Linked DNA regions of Homo sapiens: region 1 is linked to region 2. Evidence: fine-mapped expression QTL. A gene starts in region 2. The other region holds a variant in brackets. All regions are shown on one strand. Distances are from middle to middle.

Region 1 (2,911 bases), 36 kb before region 2:
TGGGGCTCTGATGTCCATACCTCCAGCTCCTTCTCCAGCTGGGCCTGCAGTTCCTCCATCCCTGGAGGGAACACGAGGTGGGTAGGAAGGTGAATGGAGAGCCTCAGCCCCATGGGGTTGGCACCATTAAGAAACTGGTACCCAAATAAGGCATCCTCCTTTCAGAAGTCCCACACATTCTCTGGGGAAGGCAGTTGTTGAGCAAGTTGTGGGATCTGAGTTCTTGGTCCTTCCAACCCCCACCAACCATGCCCACTTGACTCTAGCCCACCAGAGGGACCCAAGTCTCTGGTCTCCCCACCCTGGTTCTTTCAATTCCCCTGGATTGGGTGGGAGCTGGAGTAAGAGTCCTGGGAGGAGTATTGGGGTAGGGGGTCTGATCAGCTAGCTTGCCCTGGCCACACTAGAAAATCCGGTTGAAGTCATCCAGATTGTTCCAACAAGTCAGAACATTTAGAGTCTTTGATAGCGAGGTCGGCCAGGCTTCAAGGAAGGTTGGGGCAAAGGGTTTGAGCATATTTTGAGACTCCAACATTACAACCACAGGCACCTATCTTGGGCTGATCCAGCACAGTGCAGCCTATAAGCCCCTTGGCTTCCACTAGACCAGAGCACCCCCCTCCCACCCAGCCTCCCCTTGCTGTCACCCATTGGCCAGCAAAGCCTCAAAGTCAACTCTCTTGTCTTCCAGAAATCGCTCATGCACAGGAGATCACATAGTTTGGCCCCAGCCACATTCAGAATTAACCCATCCTTCCAGTTTCCCCACCAGTGGGGAAGAATGAAATCAGACACGGGTGCTGGAAGCAGCAGTTCACATGGGGTCTGGGGAGTAGGGGGTCACCGGTACAGCTTCCTTCTCTCTTCCAGCTCCTCTTCCCTGTGTTTCTTTCTTTATTTTCTTTTCTTTTCTTTTTTTTTTTTTGAGATGGAGTCTTGCTCAGTCGCCCAGGCTAGGGTGCAGTGGCACGATCTCGGCTCACTGCAAGCTCTGCCTCCTGGGTTCACACCATTCTCCTGCCTCAGCCTCCCAAGTAGCTGGGACTACAGGTGCCCGCCACCGCACCCGGCTAATTTTTTTGTATTTTTAGTAGAGACGGGGTTTCACTGTGTTAGCCAAGATGGTCTCGATCTCCTGACCTTTTGATCCGCTCGTCTGGGCCTCCCAAAGTGCTGGGATTACAGTTGTGAGCCACCGCGCCCGGCCTTCCCTGTGTTTCTTGAACAGGCCTTGAGAGTCCTCGGCCACAGTGCAGCCTAGAGTAGAGTGCAGTAGAGAGGAGGGATTGGGCAATGGCTTTTTCTGAGAGCCTCTTCTCGTCCCTGCCAAGAGAGCTTCATCACCCTGTCCTTCTGTGTGGCCCCTGCCCCTTCGGCACCACGCCCCACCCCCAGCCTCCACGCCACTCTGTGCCAGCTCCCGCAACCGCTTCTTCAACAACCTCCAAAGACCCCTGCGCTCCAGGTTCCAGCACCCCCATCCTCCACATCCGCATGCACCCCAGCTTCTCTTGCACTCCAGACGCCTCTTCACACTTTCACGCTTTCAGCCCCGCTCTCACCAGTGCCTTCCGGTAC[G/T]CTCAGGACGCCGTTGCCCTCCACCCAGAGGTAACAAGGGAACTTCACTTCCTCACCGGATCCGGGGCCCTGCACGGAGATCCAGTTGCAGAACCAGGAGGCGTCCAGAAGGAGATGCCGTTTGCGCAGTTTCCCAAACAGCAGCGGCCCCAGGTGCTCCGGTACTTGAACCTTGAATTCTACTTCCCGCGGGAGACAGAGGAGGCTCAGCCACCGTGGGGCCACAGCTGCACCTAGTTGTTGGAGCTGGCACAGGGTGAGGCCCCGGTGGACACCCGGACGCAGTAGAGACCAATCTTGCTCAAAGACGTTTCGCTCCTTCTGGTGGGGAAGAAGGGTGGACGAGCTAACTCGCTGAGCCTGAGACCCTGCCCTCTCAGAATTCGCTTGGGGTCAGAAAGTGGGTGGCAGGTCTCCAACCAACTCCGCCTGGCTACCCGCTGGGGCTTCCAGGAGCTACCCGCTGGAGCTCCAAGGAGCAGAACTCAGCCCCATGCCAAAAAGGAGTCCCGGCGGAAGCAGGGAGTGGAAACCATTACTTTGATTGGTGGGAGAAGCAGAAAAGGATTTGGACAGAAAATACGCAGGAAGAAGGAATCAACGCCTCGTACAGGAGGCAGGTGAGGTGGGGGCAGGAGTTATGCACCAGTGTAAGATGGAGTTTCAGGCAAGCCTGGATGGCTAGGAAATCCCCCTCCATCTAAACGTGCGCGTGTGCGCGCGCGTCTCACAAGTTGGGCTACAGGAGGGGGTGAAGTGGGAGAGGAGACCCAGTCTTCAGTGACATTTGAGGAAGACACATTAAGGCCACTGAATTCATTGGACCAACTTTGCTTACTTGCCTTCCCTGTGCCAGGCTCTGGGATTCATTCCTTTTGAATGTAAACGCCTCTGCCTCCCTATTGCCTGCGGAATAAAAATCCAAATTTGGGGGCATTCAATGCCCTTGCTAACCCGACCAGACCTCCTTGCCCCTCATCCCACTGCACCAGGGCATCTTCTGCTGCTTCACTTTGGGCTGGAGCCATGTGTTCCCTGGAACCCACGCGTCTTTCCCTCAAAGAACCTGCTCCTGGGTAAGCCTATTCATCCTTCTAAACCCTGATTCCAGTTTTTCAGCTAAGTCTTTCCTGGTTATTCCACCCCTGTCACCTCACCAGAGCTGGTCAGCTTTCCTTTCTACCACTTTTCTCTTTGTGCACACTTCTATTGTTGCACACTTAATCCTGCGCTGTGATCTTTTGTTTGTATGTCTGTATCCCCCACTAATGCGAGTTTGTCCTAGGCAGGGACTACACACCCAGCAGGACTCTCACTTTTGTTTCCCCTGGAT
Region 2 (2,911 bases):
AAATTGATTTTTGAATACCAAAACAGCTTTTTATTCCTGGAATAAATATCACTTGTTCATGGTTTGTAGTTATTTTTATATATTGTTGAATTATTTTTGCTATTATTTGGTTGAGAATTTTTCCATCTATATTCATGAAGAATACTGATTTCTTCTTCTTCTGTCTTTAGCTCTGATATCAGAGTAACACTGGCCTCATGAGTTGGAATATCTTTCTATTGTCTTCTTTCTATTCTTTTTTTATTCTGGAAGAGACTGGATATAATTCGTGTTAACCTTTAAATGTTTGTTAGAATTCTCTGATCTAGCTATCCAGGCCTTAAGATTTCTTTTTCAGATATTTCAAATTATGACTTCAGTTCTAGGGCTATTCAACATAACTATTTCATGTAAGAGAGAATTTGTGCTTTTTCAAGAATTAGTGCATTTCATCTATGTTGTGAAATTTATGTTTGTAGAGTTGTTTGTAGTATTCTCTTTATTCTTTTGATTTCGTCATGGTCTACAGTGGTATCTCCTGTTTCATTCTGGATATTGATATTTTGTGTCTCCTCTACAGATTTGTCAATTTTATTAACATTTACAGAACCAGCTTTTGTTTAATCGGTTTTTCTCTATTTTTCTTTTTACATTTTATTGAGTCATCTTCTTATCCTTATTATTTCCTTTCTTTCACTTGCCTTCGGTTTATTTTGCTCTTCTTTTTCTAGTATGTGAGGGAGCTTGGTTATTGCTTTGAAATTTTTTTCTTTTCTAATGTAAGCCCTTAGTGGTATATACATTTTTCTCTCACCACTGATTTAGCCACATCCCACAAATTTTGATATGTTGTGTTTCACTGTCATTCATTTCAATGTATTTTAAAAATTCATTCACTTTCACTTTCATTCATTTCAATGTATTTTAAAAATTTGAGACTTTCTCTCTGAACAATGGATTATTTAGCATGTGTTTTCACGTGTTTGGAGATTTTCCTTTTATCTTCCTGTTATTGATTTCTAGTTTAATTCTATTGTGTTCAGAGAACAAACTGTATGATTTCAGTTGTTTCAAATTTGCTGAGATTTGTTTTATGACCCAGGTTACTTCATATCTTGCTAAATGTCCCATCGACACGAATAAAATGTGTATTCGGCTGCGTTTGCGGTGTTACATAAATGCTGATTAGTTCCTGTTGATTAACAGTGTTGTTGTGTCCACAGAAGCATTGGAGAAAGACTGTAACCTGAGGTGATAGGCTTTGATTGTGTCCTGGCTTAGTATGATGGGACACACCTCTGCTTGCTTCCTTTCCTTTGGACAACCCTCAGCCTCTCAGTCTCTACATGACCTCAACATGGCCGCCCACAGGCCAGAGTGTCTACATGGGCGCCGCCATACTGGCGCCCAGCCTAAGCCGCTGAAACGGGAGCGTGTTTGGCAAAGCGCCATGTTGATTACTGGCAACCTTCAGGCCATGAAGACTGCTGAGCATGCGCAAACCCAGGCAGCGCTGTAAGAAGTACCTCTAGGCCTGGGAGGCATTGAGAAAAAGGAAGTGGGTCCTGTTCTGGTTCTTGCGACTATAGTCACCTCCCGAGGCAAATGACCACTGTCCTGAGAGGACGTGGGTGAGGGGCAGGTGAGTAGAGGGATGGCAGCATCTGTGGACTGAGCAAGAAGAATCTCTGATGTCTGTCCTGAGCCTTCCGGTCAGTGATGGGGTCGGTCAGTGGATGGAATAGTGGAAGTCGGAGCGATCTCTGATGGTGGATCTGAGGGAGGAGTGAGGGGGCACTGAGGGGTCTCTGGTGGTGGATCTGCAGGCGGAGTGAGGACGGACTGGGGGTCTCTGTCTGGTGGTGGATCTGAGGGCGGAGTGAGGGCGGACTGTGGGGTTGTGGGGGAGGATGACTATGGGAACTAAGGAGGGATCTGAGGAGTGTGAATGATGCACATCTTAATTAGTTTCCTCTCTTTTATACGTACCGATCTGTTTATATTTTCGTTTCTGTTTCATTATAATGATATATTTTGCTAAAGATTTAAAGAATATATTACATAGAATTGCATGTTTCCATTTCCATTTTGTTCTCTTTCATATCCAGACTAGTAGCTCCTTTATCATTACGGTTATTATATTTATATATCATTCATTCTTTCTCTATTTAAAAAGAATCAAGCGTCTGAAAGGTTTATCTGTTTCATTGGACATTTTGAAATGTCCAATAAAATACTCCCTACTCTTTTAATATTAATTTTTTTCTCTTTTTCTTTTTAGGTACTTTCTCTTTTTCCCACTTTTTGATGTAATTTGTTGTTCTTTCCCTTATTTTCTTAAGTTTTATGCGGGATACATTTAGGGTTGTAAAGTTTCTTTAAGTACATCTTTATGAAATGCATAAGTTCATTTTGATGTTTCCCTTTGAATCTTAGTTATTTAGGAGAGTTTATTCATTCCCAAATTATTAAAGTATGTTTTAGCTGTTTTTTATTTTATTGTATTGTCAGAAAATGCAGACTATCAAGTCTCAACTTTTAACAATTTATCAAGATTTTCCTTGAAGCCAAGTTACTCAATGAACTTTGTTCAACAGATATAAAAGAAAAATTATATTTTGTTGTATGGACCAAAATTCTCTTTAATTAAGTCTTGCTTGTTGGTATTTTTCAAATCTTTATCTTTCCTAATTTTGATCTACTTGTTTCATATTCTGGAGGAGATACAATAAAAATCACTTTTAATAGTTCATTTTGCAGTTATATGTGCTTTTTTGCTAATTTTATTTGTGCATCTGAGGGATGGGCATACATACACTTAATGGTTAGTGCATTTTTTATCCTTTTTCATGTATTAAGTGGTATTATTATAGGATCCCTTTTTTCAACCAAAAAGAAAAAAGAAAAACACTTTTTAACATCGAATTCCAAG

The links. PIP is the estimated chance that this variant, and not a neighbour inherited with it, causes the effect. A credible set is the group of variants that fine-mapping cannot tell apart.
Region 1: its variant is the best candidate, but not a certain one, in a credible set for the expression of ZNF484 in blood mononuclear cells (TOPMed, PIP 0.79).

Annotation. Positions count from the first base shown.
Region 1 is chr9:92,912,122-92,915,032 of GRCh38, reverse strand. It overlaps the pseudogene ALOX15P2. Among named protein-coding and RNA genes, the nearest start is that of FGD3, 34 kb to the left of the region's middle. RefSeq lists an enhancer at 2,093-2,594. The variant G/T (reference allele first, on the strand shown) is at 1,579.
Region 2 is chr9:92,876,600-92,879,510 of GRCh38, reverse strand. ZNF484 (zinc finger protein 484) reads left to right here and starts at 1,473. Exons shown (of 5, transcript NM_031486.4): 1 at 1,473-1,621. RefSeq lists enhancers at 1,230-1,669, 1,183-1,718.